Regions from separate parts of the Homo sapiens genome. Here all the other regions are reported to be linked to region 4. The links are microRNA targets in miRTarBase. Many come from high-throughput screens and were not tested one by one. Region 4 holds a microRNA gene; each other region holds the end of a gene's coding sequence.

What was found. Region 4 holds the annotated microRNA hsa-let-7f-5p (UGAGGUAGUAGAUUGUAUAGUU, at 1,283-1,304, opposite strand). A microRNA usually pairs through its seed, bases 2 to 8, with sites in the 3' UTR of a target mRNA and lowers its output. Matches are read on the target gene's strand: a 7mer-m8 pairs with bases 2 to 8, a 7mer-A1 pairs with bases 2 to 7 and ends in A, and an 8mer does both.
Region 1: the mRNA of FNDC9 is a reported target of hsa-let-7f-5p. Seed matches in the 3' UTR shown: 8mer at 2,135-2,142.
Region 2: miRTarBase lists CNOT8 as a target of hsa-let-7f-5p. The part of its 3' UTR that is shown has no 7-base or 8-base seed match.
Region 3: miRTarBase lists CASTOR2 as a target of hsa-let-7f-5p. Seed matches in the 3' UTR shown: 7mer-m8 at 2,266-2,272.
Region 5: the mRNA of ASTE1 is a reported target of hsa-let-7f-5p. The part of its 3' UTR that is shown has no 7-base or 8-base seed match.

Annotation. Positions count from the first base shown.
Region 1 is chr5:157,339,541-157,344,100 of GRCh38, forward strand. It overlaps FNDC9 (fibronectin type III domain containing 9), which reads right to left. Exons shown (of 2, transcript NM_001001343.4): 2 at 2,058-4,003. The coding sequence starts at 3,996. The coding sequence ends at 3,322. It overlaps CYFIP2 (cytoplasmic FMR1 interacting protein 2), which reads left to right. Exons shown (of 31, transcript NM_001037333.3): 23 at 1,530-1,617. Among named protein-coding and RNA genes, the nearest start is that of FNDC9, 3.9 kb to the right of the region's middle.
Region 2 is chr5:154,874,120-154,878,679 of GRCh38, reverse strand. It overlaps CNOT8 (CCR4-NOT transcription complex subunit 8), which reads right to left. Exons shown (of 7, transcript NM_001301073.2): 7 at 1,888-3,390. The coding sequence ends at 3,241. Among named protein-coding and RNA genes, the nearest start is that of CNOT8, 18 kb to the right of the region's middle.
Region 3 is chr7:75,022,936-75,027,209 of GRCh38, reverse strand. It overlaps CASTOR2 (cytosolic arginine sensor for mTORC1 subunit 2), which reads right to left. Exons shown (of 9, transcript NM_001145064.3): 8 at 2,676-2,770; 9 at 1-2,576. The coding sequence ends at 2,511. It also overlaps a transcript of RCC1L not described here. Among named protein-coding and RNA genes, the nearest start is that of RCC1L, 49 kb to the left of the region's middle.
Region 4 is chrX:53,555,964-53,558,963 of GRCh38, forward strand. MIRLET7F2 (microRNA let-7f-2) reads right to left here and starts at 1,311; the gene lies at 1,229-1,311. HUWE1 (HECT, UBA and WWE domain containing E3 ubiquitin protein ligase 1) reads right to left here. Exons shown (of 84, transcript NM_031407.7): 59 at 2,692-2,846; 60 at 1,419-1,464. MIR98 (microRNA 98) reads right to left here and starts at 378; the gene lies at 260-378.
Region 5 is chr3:131,010,852-131,015,411 of GRCh38, forward strand. It overlaps ASTE1 (asteroid structure-specific endonuclease 1), which reads right to left. Exons shown (of 6, transcript NM_014065.4): 6 at 3,024-3,536. The coding sequence ends at 3,206. It also overlaps a transcript of ATP2C1 not described here. Among named protein-coding and RNA genes, the nearest start is that of ASTE1, 14 kb to the right of the region's middle.

The DNA of each region.
Region 1 (4,560 bases), not on the chromosome of region 4:
ATGCCATGGTGAGCAGATACCTTCCTGCCTCTTGAGTCTTCAGACTAGAGGAGGATGTGGGTGATCAATCACATGACAAATGTACCATTACAAACAGTGAATAAGGAGATGAAGGAAAGCCCACAGGGCCATGACAGTGGTAACAGTACCACCTATTCCAGTCCAAAAAGTCATGCAAACCTCAACGGAGGCTTCCTCTTTGAGGAAGTAATGCTGGAGTTAAGATGCAAAGGATGACTAGGAATAAATAAGGCAAAAAGGCAGGAGAAGAATATTCCAGACAAGTTTCTAAGGGTTTCTCCAAGAAGTTGATGAGGGTAAAACTAGTCGGGTGGGAAATGGTGCTGTGAAAGATAACACAGGAACAGATTGTGCAGTACTCTACAGGCCAGGGCAGGATCGTGCATTTTTATTAACCCTGAAAGAGTTTGAGGAAAGGAGATGACATGATCAGATTGTATGTTTGTAAGGATATCCACGTATCTGAAAGCATGCCTGCAAAACAGCATACATTTGCAGAGCACACATACGCATGACAAAGTGGAACTTGCCTCCTGCAAGGTGCACACGGCCCGGGGCCAGGCACTGAGGTAGAGACAAGACCTAATTTCTTTATCCCCACAAAGTTTCATAACCCAGTGGAAGAGTAAGGCATATATATTCACATACAAAATAAGTATGTAAGGATGCAAAAAAAATGTATTCATCTGCAGATCTTCTAGGTATCTCCAAGCCTTGGCTCAAGGCCAGTATTGAATGAGTGTGTGTTGAATGAATGAAAGGGTATGGGAGATATCCACAAATGCACCTGGATCCACACACTAAGTGAGATAGATTTCCAGTTCTATAAAGATTTAGGAGCTTTAACACTCTTGAGCAGGGAGCAGCAAACTGTGGCTCACAGGCCACATCTAGTTGCTGACTGTTTTTGTAAAGCCCATGAGCTGAGAATAGTATTCACACTTTTGGGTGGTTGAGGGGAAAAAATCCAAAGAAGAATAATATTTGGTGACAAGTGAAAATGATTTGTATTTGATAAAGTTTTATTGGAACTCGATCATGCTCATTTGTTTATTATTGTCTGTGGGTGCTTCCATGCTGCAACAGCAGAGTTGAGTACTTGCAACAGAGACCGTCTGGCTTCCAAAGCTAAAAATATTTGCTGCCTGGCTCTTTTGAGAAAGAGTTTGCTGAACTCTGCTCTTGAGAAACCAAACTGGAGGTAGAGGAGTGGAGCCCTAGAGAAAGTCCACTCTTAGTTTCTTGCCTAGTGTCATTCGGAGCAGCCACAAGCCCCTGGTTGAGCCCAGGAATCTAGACTGAATTTTTCCCATCTATAGAAAGGAGACGGCAGTTGAATGGGAAGATGTCAGAAGAGTTTAGTACCTTTATAGTCAACCACCTAACAAACAGTGCACTTGTACCAGTGCAAACCTTCACCTGGCCAGGAAGCACTCCTGTTATCTGTGTCCCATGGAGAATAATATTAGGACCATATTAACTCTTTCCCATCCCTATGCTTCTACTAGTTTTGTGCGGACTGCCATTCCTTTCACCCAAGAACCACAACGAGACAAACCTGCCAACGTCCAGCCTTATTACCTCTATGGATCCAAGGTAAGTAGTCCTGCCCTACCCTGCCTAGAAGAGGGTTGGTGAGAAAAAGCAAATAGAAAAGTGTCTCTTAATTAGAAGAGTAAGAAGGTGCAGAGATAAAGGCAGCAATGAGGTCAGGCACAGTGGCTCATACCTTTAATCCCAGCACTTCAGGAGACCGAGACCAGTGGATACTTCAGGCCAGGAATTTGAGAACAGCCTGGACAACATAGCGAGACCCTGTCTCTACCAAAAAAATAAAAAATAAAAAATTAGCTAGACATGGCGGCATGCACCAGTAGCTACTTGGAAGGCTAAGGCAGGGGGATCCTTTGAGCCCAGGAGTGTTATGCTGCAGTGAGCATGATTGTACCACTTCGCTCCAGCCTGGCTGACAGGGCGAGACTCTTATCTCTAAAGAGAAAGGAAAAAGGCAGCAATAAGATCCAGGCAGAAACAGCTGTGAGTATATGAATCTTTATTTGTTCACAAGTAGCAGGAATGGGGGCAAAAGTCTGGGTGCCGAGCAGGGAATGCATGAGGTAGGCAAGGGAATAGGGATGTGGGGCTTCTCGTCTTGGCTTCTCAGCTCCTGCTGTTTCTTAGTTGATTCACTGCAGTGTCGTCCTGTGATTCTGGGATTTTGTGCTCTATAGATATAAGAGGGTACTGGGAAGGTCTTGGATGATGCTTGGAGAGTACAGGCGTCTTCTCCAGAACAGCCTGCCTAGTCTGGTCAAGACAATTTTCTCAAATCAAGGGAAGCTGACTGACAGCATTTGAGGTGGTTCACAGACATGGCATTTAACTAACACTGACTCGCAAAGTAAAAACAGCACTTCCCTTTTCGATTCTCTTTCAAACCTTATGCTATATCAAGGAGAAAGACAAATATTGGTGCTAATATGTCTTTATTACCTCTCCAACACTGGATCTCCCTTTTTATCAAAGACAAGCAAGCAGGCATTAAGCTCAGAATCACTGGCAGGCAATAGAAGCTAAGTCAGATTATTTAATATTATCTTGTTTTCATGATGTTTATTCTTATGTCTCTTCCCTTCTGTTTGCAGCAGGAGGGTGCTGGTTTTTCACTTATGGAGTAATATAAGGCTGTCTTTGAAAATAAGTTTACGCTTAAAAAATGAGTCAATTTAAAGGAAAGTATTATTAATAATAGTGAAGATAATCCATGGTTTTAAAAAATAGAGAGCGGTGGTATGTGATTGCCTAAAAGTTGGAAAACACTCCAGAGCAAGGGTTCTCACAAATTATTTCCAAATAATCCCAAATTATTTCCAAATAATCCCCTCAAGGGCAGAGGAAACTGGACATCTACCTTTGCCCAAAAGTGTACCTCTGAGAGCCTACTTGTAACTCAAGTGTTTCCTTCAAGTGCTGTGTTTTATTTGTCATGCAAATTTTTGCTTTCTACTTTATAACATATCCATGTTTGTTTTAATGTTAAAACAATGCTTTCAATTCTTAACTGTGTCCTCCGAGTGGACGCTGCTGCTGAGATGCCTCGTTTGTGCCTTGGCATACCCTGGGGGATACATTTTCCAGCTTGAGAAGCTTTGTCATGGGGCATTCATCCAACCCAGGTGACCTACAATAGCAGTGACGTTTGATGGGAGAGAAATGGGTAGTCTATAGACACATTTGTACAAACGACCTACTGTGTGGAAAGCTTTAGGCTACATGATGCGGGCGCTCTCCTCCCCACTCTCATTCCCCACAATGAGGCAGTATAGCGGGTGGGTCACCACCCCCCCTCTGTAAGGCACCCGCATCAGGGGCATCCTGGTTGGCTTCGGGATCCAGTTCAGCTCCATCTCTGGAGTTCTTGCGTGGCATTTCCACCAGGGGGAGCCCCTGCAGGTCTTCCTCCCTCTGACCAAGATCCGGGGCCTCCTCTGGCCATCTCACCAACCCATTGGCCTCCTCCATGTGGCCAGCCCTGTAAGACCATCGCGGCTCATGGCAACGGACACACCAGAACTGGAGGCAGATGAAGGCCAAGACGGCTGTGAAGCAGGCCAGCAGAATGGCCATCAGCACCCAAAGGGAGATCTGGGGGTCTACCAGGGAGCTTCCAGGAGCCAGCGGACTCTTATCCAGGGTGTGGAACATGGTGCAGTAGTGCCTGTAAGGGAAGGCAGCCTTCTTACAGCTGATGCACAGGAAGTAGAGAGTGGAAGGGGCAAGATGTTCCAGCACCACGGAGCTGATCGTTCGAGGCACCTTCTCCTCGTGGTGGAAGCTGTAGCGAAGATAGCCAGAGAAGATGCTGTTCCAGTTGGGCCTGTACATAATATGGTAATAGTCCTCCAGGCAGGGCTCCGAGGACGACCAGGAGATGATGGCTCCTGTATAAGAAATGTTCCCCACCTCGATGTTCATCCCGATTCTGGAACCAGAATCAAAGTGAAGAGTGACATCCCCTGATTTAAGTATGTATTTATCATAATCATAGCCACCATTTATTGCACATTTGAGACGGGCACTCATGTTGCCCTCATCTTACAGACAAAGAAATGGAGGCCGAGAGGTTCTGTTATTTAGGCATAGCGAAAAAGTGGCAGGACAAAAGTTAAAACTGGGGCTGTCCCATGCCAAAGTTCAGGCCTAAGAACAGATGCACCCATGCAATCCCAGCCACATCCCACCCTAGCTGAGATCCTTCAGATAACAAAGGGGATTTTCTTAAGGGGATTGTTCTCATCCCCTTAAGAAAAAAGAAGAAAAGGTAAGGAGAAATCAGTAGAACCTCAGAGGCTCCACCTTTATTCTCAGGTCTGTGACCTCCCCTCAGGCAATTGATTCACCTCAATTTTCCTTCTTGACCTCCTGTTTCTGCTCCAAGTACTGTGAGCTCAGTGATCTAGAACATTCTGCCCACTGCTTTTTTTAGCCTCCTGGTTCTGTTGCCCATGGTGAGTGGAAATTCGCTTCGTCACTCTTTGG
Region 2 (4,560 bases), not on the chromosome of region 4:
CAATGTAAGCTAACCCGATTGGCTAAAACTTGAAATTTTTCCAAATAGGGTAGATGGGGAAGAAGGGGTAGGAGTGGTAAAACTTTTCCAAACAGAGTAAACTGAAACATTTAAATGCGTAACTTGTTGTTTTTTTTTTGTTTTGTTTTTTGTTTTTTTTGAGACTGTCTCTGTTGCCCAGGCTGGAGTGCAGTGGCGCGATCTTGGGTCACTGCAACCTCCACCTCCTGGGTTCACGCCATTCTCCTGCCTCAGCCTCCCAAGTAGCTGGGACTACAGGTGCCCACCACCATGCCCGGCTAATTTTTTGTGTTTTTAGTAGAGACAGGGTTTCACTGTGTTAGCCAGGATGGTCTCAATCTCCTGACCTCATGATCCACCCGCCTTGGCCTCCCAAAGTGCTGGGATTACAAGCGTGAGCCACTGTGCCCAGCCTAAATGCGTAACTTGTAAAGAAAAGAAAGGAGGGGAGGGAGGGATTGTCCGTTAAGGCATGTTTGGGCATGTTTAGGCATGGCAAAGATGGAAAGGCTTGTTTAGAGAACAAGAATGTATCTTCTAGCAATGTGAAATGACATTAGTCGCTAAAAGAAACAAAGAAGTTTGAAGAGGAACTGACTGTTTCTGGCACCAGCTATTTGGGAGGCTGAGGCAGGAGAATTGCTTGAACCTGGGAGGCGGAGGTTGCAGTGAGCCAAGATCATGCCACTGCACTCCAGCCTGGGCGACAGAACAAGACTCTGTCTCAAAAAAAAAAAAAAAAAAAAAAAAAAAAAGAATTACAAGCCAGCACGGTGGCTCATGACTGTAAGCACTTTGGGAGGCCAAGGCAGGCAAATCACTTGAGGTCAGGAGTTTGAGACCAGCTTGCCCAACATGGTGAAACCCCATCTCTACTAAAAAAATATAAACATTAGCTGGACATGGTAGCATGCACCTGTAGTCCCAGCTACTCAGGAGGGTGAGGGTGCAGTGAGCTAAGATCATGCCACTGCACTCCAGCCTGGATGACCGAGTGAGACCCTGTCTAAACCTCGAAAGAATTACACCTTAAGTGATTCTCTTGGTTACCCTACAGTGCCATCACTTTTTGAGGATGAGCATTCACATAGACCTATATGCACTCATACACACAAAGTTCTTGCCAGTTCCAAGACTTGTGCTCTTTCTTGCTAAAGCACTACTCTAAGCTCTTAACTCTCACATGCAATGATGACCAAACCCCACACTCAACACTGAGTTCCTCAACCCTTTGAGCATTTCTCCTGACATGTAAGTAAGTCCTTAATTGTAGAAAATATTAAATGTCCTGCTTTAATTCAAATTTGGAAGGGTATCTGCATAGCGCTCACAGTCACCAGCATGCCAGGGCACCCTGGTTGAGAACCACTGACTGCTGTTTCACCAGAAATTACAGTGATAAATCTCTTGTTTTGTCAACTTCCCAGTCACAATTCCATATCTGCCCCTGTACCAGACTTCTTAAAACCCCACATATTTTGTGTCAACAGAAATGGCTGGAAACAAAGTCTTGAGCCAACTCTAGGATATCTGAAGTTCAGGTTGTTTAAAAGAATCCCACTAATTAACAAGCTAATCCACCATATATAGTGGAGTGACCCCAGGAAATATTAGACTGGTTTAATTCTATAATATTAAGACCCAACAATCTTGAGTATGAAGAGACAATTCCATTTACACAGGTGCTCGTGAAAAGCTTCCTACCAAGTGATATGTATTTTTTTTATTCCCGAACCCACCCCCCAAGTGATATTTTGTATGTAAGCCAACTTGGGGACAATGGAGGCAAGATGCTCTTATTTCACTGATGGCAAATGACCATCTTCCAGAGCCAGCAATCCATAGCTATGAAAGACCAAACCTTAATGCCAGTGGTTAAAAAGAAATCTTTATTTTACAAAATTAAAAACATAAATAGTATTTACAAGCATCTTAAATACCAGCTTATAATACTTGACATTTTCTAATCATTTCAAATTGAGTTTCCCATAAGCTTTTAAAATGCAAGACCATTCATTCACTTGAGTGAGTTACCAGTTTTTACTTCCACCAATCCAAAGTGGGTTTTGGTTTTTGAAATTGTCCATACTGTAGTCATTCAAAAAAATACAATATGCTTTTGAAATGACTAGCTTTAAAGAAAAAAGTCCTGAGCTTCCTACCCCAGTTGTGGGATATTACTCCAAAACAACTCAAGAACCCAAATTATCTTACTGCCTGATTAAATGTAACCACTCTAGCTTTTTAAAGACACATTCCTGTTACTCACATTAATCCATCTCCCTCACGTTTCAGGTTTGCTGGAAGGAAAAGTAGAGAAATAATGGAGTAGAGAAGTGGGAGAATCCAGATGACCATCTGAAATCACATTACTGAAAATACAACAGACATGACCCAAAAATCTGATCTTACTAGTTTCCTTCAGGATCAAATCCAGGATATTTTATTGTACAAAAATTTCAAATGATTTCAGATGATGCATATGTGACAGCAAACCTGAATGGCACAATGGAACACAGACTTAAAAGATGCTTCAGTGGTCAACACTCATTCTGGAGTTCTCATGAATGAAGGGTAGACAGATTCAGTAAAATTGTTTGCTTTTCAGTTTCATTATCTGGTCTTCAAATTTCAGCACAGAGCAATTCATTTCCATATAGTAATATGTAAAGAGAGACTACAAAAGTGTGAGGAAAGCAAATGTCCTCGAGAAGGGTCAGAAAAGGAAAGGAAGACTCAGTATCTACAACCCATTACCTAAGAACACCATTTTGTTCCATTTTCCCTGGAAGCCCTCACAGCTCAGCTGAGAATCAGAGTAAGAATCTTCATTATCAGAGATTAGCAACAAATTTAAAAGAAAAAGAATGACAACAGGTAAGAGTTATATACATTTTACTACTTTGTTTCAGACTTGTCCTGATATTTAAAAAGGTGTCAAATGAGCCATGGATGCTGGTGGCAGGAGGCAACCAGAGAGGAGAGGCTCGAGTATGAGGAATGGGGAAGACTTATTTACAAATTCAGAGCAAACTCCTCTCTTCTGGGTCTAAAATAAAAACATCTTTTGTCTTCAGTAAAACAAAAGTCTTTCTGCTCAATGCAGATGGTAGGTACAGTGTGCTCAAAAGAAGCATTTTCTCTTGGGGAAGATAAGTACACAGTCAGCACAGTAAGCACCACTCTGGGATCAGGCCCACCCTGCAGAGCCTGGCGCCATCACTGCTGCATGTTGTTGATAATCGCCAGGATGCTCATCTTCTCCTGGGCAGAGTCCACATCCTCATTCTGCTTCTGGGCCACTCCTGTGCCTAAGCCATAGAGCCGCCCACAGTACTTGGCATCATCAATGCTGTCCTCAAAAAACAACTGCAGAATGGGACAGAGAACCATGGTGAGAGTTATGCTAGAAGTCATGACAAGTATAAATATTATCACATCTGGCCGGGTGCAATGGCTCACGTCTGGAATCCAAGCACTTTGTGAGGCTGAGGCGGGCAGATCACTTGGGGTCAGGAGGTCGAGACCAGCCTGGCCAACATGGCAAAACCCCATCTCTACTAAAAGTACAAAAATGAGCCGGGCATGGTGGCACATACCTGTAATCCCAGCTACTTGGGAGGCTGAGGCGGAAGAATCACTTGCGCCCAGGAGGCAGAGGGTGCAGTGGGCCAAGGCCGTACCACTGCACTCCAGCCTGGGCAACATAGCGAAGACTCCATCTCAAAAAAGAAAAAAACCACTACCACATCACCACCTCCCAGCCTTCCTAAAGCCCTGAAAATATACCAAACTAGAAAAAAAAACTAATAGTATAGAAAGGCTCGGCCAGGCACAGTGGCTCACGCCTGTAATCCCAGCACTTTGGGGCGCCAAGGCAGGTGGATTACGAGGTCAGGAGTTCAAGACCAGCCTGGCCAAGATGGTGAAACCCTGTCTCTACTAAAAATACAAAAAATTAGCCAGGCGTGGTGGCAGGCACCTGTAATCCCAGCTACTTGGGAGGCTGAGGCAGAGAATTGTTTGAACCCGAGAGGCAGAGGTTGCAGTGAACTGAGATCACACCACTGCACCCCAGCCTGGGTGACAATGCAAGACTCCGTCTCGAAAGAAAAAGAAAAAGAGACAGGGTTTCACTCACTGCAACCTCCGCCTCCCAGGCTCAAGTGATTCCCTTGCCTCAGCCTCCCGAGTAGCTGGGATTACAGGTGCATGTCATCACACCTGACTAATTTTTGTACTTTTAATAGAGGCAGGTTTCACCATGTTGGCCAGGCTGGTCTCGAACTCCTGACCTCAAGTGATCCACTTGCCTCGGCCTCCCAAAGTGCTGGGATTACAGGTGTGAGCCACCGCACCCGGCCTAAACCTTTCCTTTTAATGCAGTCTTTTCATGCTCCTTTCTCTATAGGAGAAAGGCTCTCCTATCTGAACATACTTTCCATGTATTCTTTTACTGCCAGTATCTCTGTGCTGCTGCTGTTTAACACAACTGCTCCCTTCTCTTTAACAGGCAGAGCAATGGGCTGGGCTTGGGCT
Region 3 (4,274 bases), not on the chromosome of region 4:
GTTCTCTCAAGTCAGGTCTGAGGGAACCCATCGGCTTCTGTAATAATCGTATTGCCTATATACTTGAATTAAAAATATATGGTGGCTCAAATGTGCCCGCGTGTATGGCAGACGGTGCGGGGTGGAGGCCATCACGCCCATACACGTGTGCACACACAGCGGGGGGCTGTGTCCACGGACTGCGCACACAGTATATATTAACATATATATTGCTCAAGTATATATGCTATTTACAGTATATATCTCTATCAACATAAAACACAGGTATTTATAGGTGTGTACAATAGATACGTCCTAGGAAGTCTAGGGGACACACGACTCTGGGGTCACGGGGCCGACACACTTGCACGGCGGGAAGGAAAGGCAGAGAAGTGACACCGTCAGGGGGAAATGACAGAAAGGAAAATCAAGGCCTTGCAAGGTCAGAAAGGGGACTCAGGGCTTCCACCACAGCCCTGCCCCACTTGGCCACCTCCCTTTTGGGACCAGCAATGTACGAGTTTTGTTCTGGAGTTTTGTGCAAAACAAATTAACTTAAAAAAAAAAAAGTTGGTTTCTAATTAATGTGGTGGGCCTTCAACACCCACAAGGATTTTAAAGAACAGCTTCTCCTTCTGGTGGGCTTCCAGGGCTCAGAGGGTCCCACTCAGAGAAGCAGGGAACACTTTGTCAGGACTAGAAAATATCCCTTCTCCTCTGACCACAGAAACAGCACAACTCGGCTGGGTGTGGTGGCTCACGCCTGTAATCCCGGCATTTTGGGAGGCCGAGGCAGGCGGATCACTTAACTCAGGAGTTCAAGACCAGCCTGAGCAATGTTACGAAATCCCGTCTCTATTAAAAAATACAATAACTAGCCAGACGTGGTGGTGCGTGCCTGTAATCCCAGCTACTTGGGAGGCCGAGGCAGGAGAATCACTTGAACCTGGGAGGAGGAGGGTGTAGTGAGCCAAGATCGTGCCACTGCATTCCAGCCTAGGCAACAGAGCCAGACTCCCATCTCAAAAAAAAAAAAAAAAACCCCCGCCAGAGCCAAAACCACAGGGGCCCTTGGTCCTGCTCATTCAGAAAACCACCCCACTGGAAGGGACACCACGGCTAACCCCATGCCTCCTGGACATGACCACTCAGCTGGCCTGCCACCTGGCTGTCCACCTCCCCATGGCCCTCGGGTTCCCTCACCCCCTCCGGTGCTCAGATAGAACTACAGCTGGTTGGTGGGAGTTCCCATGTGGGGTGCCAGCGGCTCCAGCGTCTTGTAACAGATCTCTGCTCCTAGCTTCCCTTCAGAAGAGAGGGCCCAGGCTCCTGTGACATCTCCCGATTCCCACTGCCTGTCCCTGGAGCCACAGAGCACCAGCTTAGTGACACAGAGCCTCCAGGCTCCCTTGACAGAACTCAAACAGGTCCTATCCCTGCCAAACAGAAACTACCGCCAAGAGCACCCTGGGTGCAAATACATTAAATAAAAAACTAAAACAAAGTATGGTTTTCTCTATTAAGGCTCAGTTAAGCTGCCTCCTGGGTCAAGTACTCATGAATGCCACAGCCCCCAGCCAAGGGGCGGGTGGGCAGGCAGGTGACTTGGGGGCAGAGGAGGGAGGAGGACGGCGGGGAGTCCTATGCTGGTCTAGTTGTCTGTTGGGGAGGTGGGACACCACCTAAGAAACCTCAGGCCTGGAAAGCCAGGGATGTCCCTACTGGGGGAAGCTGAGGCTCTACCTGCCCAAGTCGGGTCCAGGGAGAGCCGAGGGGACAGGAGCTGGTGCTCCAGGCTGGTGGGTCTCCTGGGACCCTCCCTCCTCCCCCAAGGACTGAGTGCTTGTGGGGGAGGGTCTGGACAGGGCCCTCTTGGCAGTCTTGCTGGGAGTCGGGCCCAGGCCCTGTGGTTGGCAGGCGAGGTACAGGGGGAGTCTGGGTCCTTCCCAGCTCGGGGATCCCACCTGGGTTCCTGTCTGAGCCTCACCAGCCCCGATGACCTGAGGGGGCCACGCTGGCCTCCACTCCGAGGGAACCAGCCCTGAGCTGATGGAAGCAGAGACCAGTGACCACAGTACTCACCCCCAAACCCTCCAGGGCACCCCAAACTCGGCCCCACCCCGCCAGCCCCAGCCCTGCAAGGTGACATGACAGCTGGCACACCGGTGTCTCGCAGGAGGGACCGGCTTCCCTCGGCATCTGCCCCTGGCCGTGGGTGAGGCCGGATGAGAAGGCGGATCAGCTCACAAGCTCCCTGGGCCTCCGAAAGCATTTTCCGGGGTGGGGGAGGTAGGGAAGAGAAAGGTCGTTCTCTGGAGGGTCGGGGGGCTCCGGGAAGGCAGGAGGGCATGGAGAGGCCTTGGCGTGGGCCCCTGCCCTGGAGGGATTGGCAATCGAGGGAGTCTCCCACAGAGGCCCCTTCCTCAGGGTCCCCAGGCTGATTTTCCAGTCTGTAGAGAAATACTGCAAGATCAATCTTCAGGGTTAGGGCTGGGCCCGGGCGGCGGCAGGGAGGAGCAGAAGAGACCCTTCTAGTGCTTCTCTGCTTGGCTGACCTTCAGGGCACTGATGACACCATTGATGTTCTCTTCGGGGACCTGTGCAGGGGTAGAGGAGGCAGATGCCTGCCCGTGAGCCCAGGAACCTGCTTCCCCACCCCGGCCCTGCCCTGGAGGGGTCTGGCGCTGGACACTCACAAGTGCATGATCAAACTTGAAAGTACTGATGTAGTAGGCTGGGATGTCTGCAGCAGCCAAGGGCTCTGAGATCTGGGCCACGATGCCACACTCATCTAGAACAGGAGAGACCGTCCTTAGCCTCTGTGTAACCTGGCTACCCTTGCCTGTGTGGCTCTTCAGCCTCTACCCTCTGTGGGCAATGCCTACCCTGCACCCACCATCCTCCTAGAGAATTCCCATCTGCTATCCCTTTTATTTTTTTTGAGATGGAGTCTCGCTCCATCGCCCAGGCTGGAGTGCACTGGCGTGAGCTCACTTCACTACAACCTCCACCTCCTGAGTTCAAGCAATCCTCGTGCCTCAGCCTCCCAAATAGCTGGGATTATAGGCGTGTACCACCATGCCCAGCTAATTTTTTTGTATTTTTAGTAGAGATGGGGTTTCACCATGTTGGCCAGGCTGGTATCGAACTGCTGTACTCAAATGATCCACCCACCTCCACATCCCAAAGTGCTGGAATTACAGGCGTGAGCCACCGTGCCTGGCCTCCCACTGGCCATCCCTCTTGAAGGCTTAACCCAGATGTCCCCCAACCAGGAGCCTTCTCTGGTCGCTGGCCAGTGAAATAGTTTGGCTTTGTGTTCCTGCCCAAATCCTCCAATTGTAATCTCAAGTATTGGAGGTGGGGCCTGGTGCAAGATGACTGGATTATGAGGGTGGATTCCTCATGAATGGTTTAGCCTCATCCTCTTGGTACTGTTCTCGTGACAGTAAGTCCTCACGAGATCTGGCTATTTAAAAGTGTGGCACCTTGGCTGGGAGTGGTGGCTCACGCCTGTAATCCCAGCACTTTGGGAGGCCGAGGCGGGTGGATCACTTGAGGTCAGGAGTTCGAGACCAGCCTGGCCAACATGGTGAAACCCCATCTCTACTAAAACTACAAGAATTAGCCGGGCGTGGTGGCACGTGCCTATAGTCCCAGCTACTTGGGAGGCTGAACCCAGGAGGCGAAGACTGCGCCATTGCACTTCAGCCTGGGCAACAGAGCAAGATCCGGTCTCAAAAAAAAAAAAAACAAAAAACAAAAAGAAAAAAAAAATGCTATCCACCAAAGACGTTGTCTGGACAACTGTGGAAACAGAGGAAAGACTAAGTCTTAGGGAATGACTGAAAATTTTCTCCTGTGGAATCCTGTCATTGTGGTTATATAGGAGAAAGTGTTTCTTCTTTTTTTTTTCTTTTTTTGAGGTGGACTCTCGCTCTGTCGCCCAGGCTGGAGTGCAGTGGCGCCATCTCGGCTTGCTGCAAGCTCCGCCTCCCAGGTTCATGCCATTCTCCTGCCTCAGCCTCCCAAGTAGCTGGGACTACAGGCGCCTGCCACCACGACCGGCTAATTTTTTGTATTTTTAGTAGAGACAGGGTTTTGCTGTGTTAGCCAGGATGATCTCGATCTCCTGACCTTGTGATCCTCCTGCCTCGGCCTCCCAAAGTGCTGGGATTACAGGCGTAAGCCACCTTGCCCGGTGCTTCTTCCCAGGATGGAAAAGGCGAGGCATTTAGGAGTAAAGTGTTGGGTGTCAGACTCTCTGGGAGATATGTGACAATTACATGTATTTA
Region 4 (3,000 bases):
TCCATTCCCTTGCACACATTCCTGTTCTATTACTAATAAAATGCAATCATTACACAGTTGAAGAATAGCAAAATGAGTTCATGCCCAAAGGTAAAATAATTATATGCTCCAATTAATGAAAGACAAGTCACTTTATAATGACATCTGCCTCACCCTAAACACCATCTGTCCCCTTCCATGTCTCTTTTCTTCCAGTCCAAATTATCCAAGGAACATCTACAACTTTGTCTGATGGAGGCAACACTGCTAAGACTAAGTGTGAATATGCCACACACCAGGGAAAGTAGTAAGTTGTATAGTTATCTTCTAATTGGGGCCTAATATCCCTACCCCACAACAATACAACTTACTACCTCACCCTGGCATGAGCAGAATCCTCTAATAAGGGCAGCAGGCAAAAGGCCATTTTACATGGTGACAGACTCTTTTAAAGATCTTTTGCTAGATTAAGGGTACCAAGGCATCTACCCTACTTCACTGCTTTAAAAAATATTGTGCAGGCTTTGGTACAATCATTTTCCAACTCAAGTGCGAAAGGAGACAGGTGTAGGGAGGCAGAAGAATGTTCTGAGGAAATATGGGTGGGGGAGACATATGATATCACATGAACCAACTGATAGAATCACAAAATGGCTACTGACCATTGTTAAGAAGATCAGAGGGAATAGGAAACATACGGCAGTCATACCACTAAGCCCAGAGAGCTACCTTCATGAACAGCACACTATCCAAGACAATGTTCCTAGACTTTTAGATTCCATGGACCAATAAAATTTAATTAAAAAAAGAACAAAAAGTAGAGACTAATGTAGGGGTTGCCAACTTTTAGTTTAGCCATGTAAGAAAAAACATCCAATCAACATCATTTAATAAAAATATTTTGGTACCACAGAATTAGGAATATGATCTCTAAATACAAAAACAGCCTTTTAAATGGAATAAATTCAGCTTTATGAAAAAGGCATTAAAGCTCCTTGATTTTGTTCGTTTCCACAGAGGACTGGCATTTGAGAACCACTGTCATCAGTTATTCTCATGAAGTGCCACACCATGGTGGTCATCAAAGGACCAGCCACTTCAAAGATGTACATGAACATGCTGTTTCAGAGGACAGAGTTGCAGTCAGGAAATGAACAAGACACATGACCTCATTACCCATGCCAGAACAAAGTAGATAATAACCAGAACAAGAACCTGAACAGAGCCAGTCGGAGAAGAAGTGTACCACCGTGGGAAAGACAGTAGACTGTATAGTTATCTCCAAGATGGGGTATGACCCTAAAACTATACAATCTACTACCTCATCCCACAGAGCACCAGTGTCCATCTTCAGCCTATGTGGGCCAGCTACTCGGAACTATCAGGATAAAGAAGCAACCAATTGATTAGTAAGAAGGGAGAAAGGGAAGGAGAGTTACCTGAGAGATTCTGTTCAGTGGAGTCATTTGACTTAGATGCAGTACACTGCAAAAAGAAGGGATAGACCAATGTGGGACTTTGCAAGCACCTAAGATAGAGGTCAACTGTAATAGTCACCATCCTCCACCCAGACCATCTAGGAGTTCAGTGATCTAATGGAGAATGCTTTGGCCATGTGACCAAAGGAAGGTGATCATTTCACTGTGCAAATATATGACCAATTTCTCTATACATACTCAGGTTCAAGAATTGTTTGGGGCTGAGGGGGAAATAAATATGGAAGGAAAGGATAATAAAAACCCCTTAGGGATGGGCACGATCATGATCATTCTAGCAAGAATTTCTTGGTTTCATCTATGTATTTTTTCCCTTCATGGGGCTTATTTTTTATTTTGTCCACTCTAGTCTTTTCAGTCACAGGCTAGGTTCACTTATTTTTCATCCTATATCAAGTTTGAAACAATGTGTGTATTAGGTAAAAAGTTCTATATAAAGATATTTGTTAGATCAACCTTGTTATTTTAACTGAACACTTCACTACCCTTATTTTTAATCTACCTGATTCCTTAACTGCTGAGTAGGGTATACTAAAGTCTTTCACTCTCAAGTCTTATTTCTTTGTATTTCTATCAGTTTTTCCCCCTTTTATATCAAGTGATACACTGTAATGTATAATTCTATCAACATTTACTCAGACATTTAAAAGATCTCTGTCTGAGGTCCCAGAAGTTTCAGAAAAAAGTAGGTAACTTCCTTCTAAACCAAAATTGTATTAGTGATTTTATACATGTGAGCCCTAGAAAAAATGACATGTGGTGATGGGGTTCAGAGTACAAACATTTTCTCTGATCTGACACCTAGGCTGATCTTACTCAAATGACGGAATGGGGTCATCTCGGTAAGATTCCCCACACTGGCAGTTCACCGACAGAAATGGAAGTGGGCGACTAAGAGCATGGACTTAGATAAGGTTTTTCTCCTTGTCTTGATGCTGTCCTTGGCGGTAGAGACTATGCAGTGTGACTGTTGAGTGAGAAGCCATTCTGCTTCTGGCTCCAGTTTTTCCCTTGACACTTGAGAAATCTCCCCTCTAGGTTTGAATTCTTTCCCCTAAAAACCAGGTCAATGTATGGTGAATTTGAAATAAAAAATTTCCCAGGTTCAACGTGAACGTTCTAGGATTCTTCAGTGATTCCTGGTGCCATGTGTATGCCAAAACCACATTACGGCAGACACAGTCAAAGATGAATCCTCCCAGCCCTTGGGAATCACCTGTGCACTCTGATCCCTGTTCTCCTTATCTTCTTTGCCTTTATCAGTTATCTTTGTTTCTTCCTCAGCCAGTTGTTTCCTGCGCTTCTCTCGCCTTTCTTCCAGCTCCTCATCCCTCAGGAATTCCAGGTGATTGACAATGGACACTTTAACCACTGTTTCAAAGAGGCAAAAATCAAAGGCTGCTCTGGTGGGGTCAGGGAGGAAGCCAAGAGGCAGAGCTTGTAGCCACAGAGAACCAGGGAAACAACTCTCCACACGTTTGCCCTAGCTCTGGAAGGCTCACTATTGCCCTGATAACCAAGCTGC
Region 5 (4,560 bases), not on the chromosome of region 4:
TGCTTAACACTCACTCACTTCTTCCCACATTCCTTGCTTTGCCCTGGCTTTTCATGTGCGGATATAACAATGGCTATCACTTATAACACACTTTTAGTATCAGGCACTGTGCTAAGTAACTTAAATATACTTGTTATTGTATCTTTTACACAATAATTTGGACTGTTATAATCCTTATTTTGCAAGTAGGGCAACTGAGGCATAGTCATTGATTTATTTCCTTTTGTGCACAAAGGAGAAAAAGATAATTCTAAGGGCTTTTTAGCTATGGTCTTTATCTTCTGAAATTCAAATTCAGATGTCAAAAGGTTAATTTGAATTCTTTCCCCATGATCAAATGGCATGAAAGACCTGTGATTATATTTACAGGATGCATATTAAACTTTCAAGGTCCAGGTGTCTCAAAAAGTGCTTTTAAAAAATAGACTTCCAGTATAATTTTATCACCACTAAATACAGAACATGATTAGGTTATAGTAAAAGTTTTCCTGTCTCTGCAGCTTTCTCTCTAAAATTTATTCATCTTAGCTGCCCAGAGTTCCTTTTGTTACTTGAACTGCTAATTGAAGACAGTTTCCAAAGCCTAAGATGAGATTTCATTTGTTAGAACTGAATTAGAAAGAGCAGGACCTAATCACTTGATTGCAAACATAGGAAACTAGATTTTGGAAAGGGAATATGGGATGTACAATATTCTGCTTCTACACAGGTGTTCCTAATGTATATCTGATCTCAATTTTAAAATTCCTATTCTTTAAAGCCAGGTCAAAAGCCAGGTCTGAGAATCTTCTTGTGATTTAACCTCTTCTCATCCTGGTGACCGCTGTTTCCTTATTGTAGTATTCAGTCTGCACTTTGCCATTTTGCACTTGACAGACTGCTTTATGTAAGGGTAAAAACCACAGTTACTTTTGCACCAACTTAATAAAATAATCTCTTGTCATTTCATTGTGTGTTGTCTCCCAAGCAGCCTGAACAAGAATGTCTTCTGCAGGGGGTTCAGGTGCTATGTCATCATTTTTCGGTGAACCACCTTACATACTCCTGTGAAGTGCCTGTGACCTCTCATCTAATACATGTAGGAGAAGATATACACCAGAGTAGTATACTTAAAGGGACATTATTAGACTGTCACTGCTTTACTGCAAGGCTGGATAATTTCAGTGGAATGGTCCTGAGTGCCATGGTTAGAGAAAGGAACCTGACTTATTACTTCTGCTGGAGGAGGACACTTTTAATGAAAGAAAAACATGGTAGATGTAATTCAGTGGTTTTAAGAAGCAGTGTTGATGATAACCCAGGAAATGGGACAGTTATATTAATATAGTCTCCAGATTAGCTTCAAACTCCAGGAATCAAGGTAGGGAGGATTTGATATAACAACGGTCTTACATGGTTTTTCTTTTTTCTTTTTTTTTTTTTTTTTGAGACAGTCTTGCTCTGTCACCCAGGCTGGAGTACAGTGGCGCCATCTCGGTTCACTGCAGCCTCTGTCTCCCGGGTTCAAGCAGTTCTCCCGCCTCAGCCTCCTGAGTAGCTGGGACTACAGGTGCCCTCCATGATGCCCGGCTAATTTTTGTATTTTTAGTAGAGACGGGGTTTCACCATGTCGGCCAGGCTGGTCTTGAACTCCTGACCTCAAATGATCTGCCTGCCTTGGCCTTCCAAAGTGCTGGGATTACAGGTGTGAGCCACTACATCCAGCACCGGTCTCACATGTTTATAGTCCTCATTAGATACCTTATTTTCCAGTAACATTTCTTCTCAAAAATAGATGTACTTGACTACTCTTTTCTTGATTCTTCTGGGAGTAACCATCTCTTTGGAGATGGTTGTTAGTAAGGTTATAAAAATAACCTTACTGAGGAACTCCCATGCAATCCTCTGAAAATAATAAAAATTTCCTTATTTCAAGAACTCTTATTTAACAAAGTAATTGTTAGGGTTGAATACTCTAGGGGCAAATGATTTATTGTGCCTTTTGTAAAAGTCAACACTTGGCAGGTGTGTGTTTGACACTGGCTGATGCTGGGCTTATTTCTCTAAGAGTATGGTAATTCTAGTAAAGTAAAGAAAATTGTTTATCAGATATTAGGAACTGTACATAGGCCTGCTCAAAATGGCAGCTTTAAAGCTACCTTTAGGGCTATTCCTGATGGAATATACCAGTGGGAGAGTACAGAAGGAAGAACACAATTTGTATGAATACAAGTAAAATGAAGGTTGAGTATATTTTCAGATCTTGCCCAATGCATTTATTCTACTTGGTTCTCTTTATTTTCAAGTTCTCATTTGGAACTGGCCGGCACTTTCAGAACTCTGGGTATTTCTAATTTTAGCAGCCTCTATTTGGCAGTATTTTCCAGAGCAGTACCTTTTAAACTTCTTCCCTACAGTCCACAGTAAGGAATATATTTTACACAATCACCTAATACATGATATGTATATCTGATATTTTCCATTCTAACTTTTTCATTAAAAAATGCTGGGTATGACTCATTAAATACTTTCACATCTCATTAATGGGTCAAAATCTGTAGTATAAAGAGGGCATAGGGTCTGGTATTGCTGCATATATCTCTTGATATTTTCACTTCTCACTGTTTCCTCCTTCTCCAGGTCTAACAGCTCAGGATGCTGTTTCTTATTTGGCTGAAGCCATTAGTTTCAACTTCTCCTTTAAAACCTGGAGTGCACCTAAAGTGCTCTTCAATCCTGTCATGGTCTCATTGACTAAGTACTTACTTTTAGTAGAGACAGTTTTCTGTCTGGCATCCTCACTTCTAACTTTCATTGGCCAGACTTCATACTAAAGTACAAAGAGGAAACTGTTTTTAAAACTTTTTGAAATGATAACCAGCTGCTACTTAAAGGCAATAATTGAGTGAGACTTCTACTTTCTGAGAATGTAGCTGGCTAAATTGCTGCAATTTAAAGCATATAGACTATATTACCATTAACTTGCTGAAATGGAACATGAGAAGTATAAACATGGTTTCAAACATATTTAGAAATACAGAAGCTTCTTAAATCAGGTTGTATTTATTAAAAACAAAATACAAAATAACTTGGAATTCAGATTATTGTGATGTTTATCCCCTAACAGGTCAGTCCTAAAGAAAAAGCTAATTGTTTCAAGGGTGGTAACGGAAGAATTTTAAGTAAGGATTATATTAAATACATCTAGTTTGATGCAAACTGAGTTTTATTCAATGTTGGAGGCCTCACTATGTTCCTCTAAGTTTTCAACCATTAACAACCCAAACCGGTTGTTTCCCTCATACCAACACTTGGTGTGTGCAGTGGTTCTCCCTCTGTTCTTAGAACAGCTGGTATTCTGTTTCTTCTGCCTTTTTTTTTTTGAATTTGATCTACCTTTTGGTAGGAATATTTCAGCGGGGGCATATGACCTTGTGGCATTGAATAGATATTCATAAAGTTGCTTAGCCTCAGGACATATGCTCAGGAGACTTTCTACAGAGGTCGATGCTAGCAGTTGCTGGCATAGTCCGTGCACCAGGCTTCCACTGTACAGTCTGTTCAAAGCAAGAAAAAAGTATGTTGTTAAAGAAGTAATTCAGTGCAACAGGATAACTACCATTGACATAGCTTCAACAAATGCATCTAAACAATGAGAGCTCTTATTGCTCTATAATATTATCGAAATTACTTAAGAATAATCTGTTCTTTGAAGGAAGGAACTGAGCTGGTATGACAAAGATTCTTTGCTGGTGATACTTAAAAACTTTTCATCAACAAATTACGTGATGCATGCTTAGTGGTTTTGCAGCTAGCCCCAGACTGAGCAGGTGTCTTTAACAAACACTTTAATTTTAAAGAAAAGGAATTTAAAAGGACCCTGATAAACCAAACAGGCAGTTTGTTAGAATATGAGAAAATTTATTGGCATCATTTGCAAGGTCATTCACTGAGACTAAAAACCTACTTCACAAATAGAAGATGGGATTAATTGGAATCCACAAGTTTATTATGGACAAAGCTGATAAACTGGTACCTTAGCAATCCATGTAGAACCATCATTTAATCAGTGTAACATCTCTGTGTAAAAAGCCTTGGTTATGCTAAGATTCAAGAACAATCCTGCTGTTTAAATCATTATTAAGAGAACTGTTTTGTTTTGCATTTCCTGTTTTGTTTTAAAAGGATTTGTGGTAACTAAAGAGGATCCAGTCAAGAATGGCCTTAAATTATTAAACGAAAGAAATAAAGAATCCAGGGGTCAAAGGCCAATTAGTCTTATTTGTGTTAGCTCAGATATAAGGCCCAGAGATATATTAACAACACTGTTTACTGCCAGGAGGCTTTTTACCTTGAAACATGTAAAGTCCCACCATATTTTGTATGCGTCCATATATCCTCATTCAAAGTATTGAAGGCACTGGGGCTGCAACAGCAAATAAAATAGACAAGCCCCTCCCCCCACAGAGTTTACATCTGAGTGGAGAGACAAACAAAACACAATCTATCTCCTTTTTATCTTCATCTCTCCCTCAAGTACCTCCTGGATGGTCAATTACCAAGATGTCCAATCCATTGATC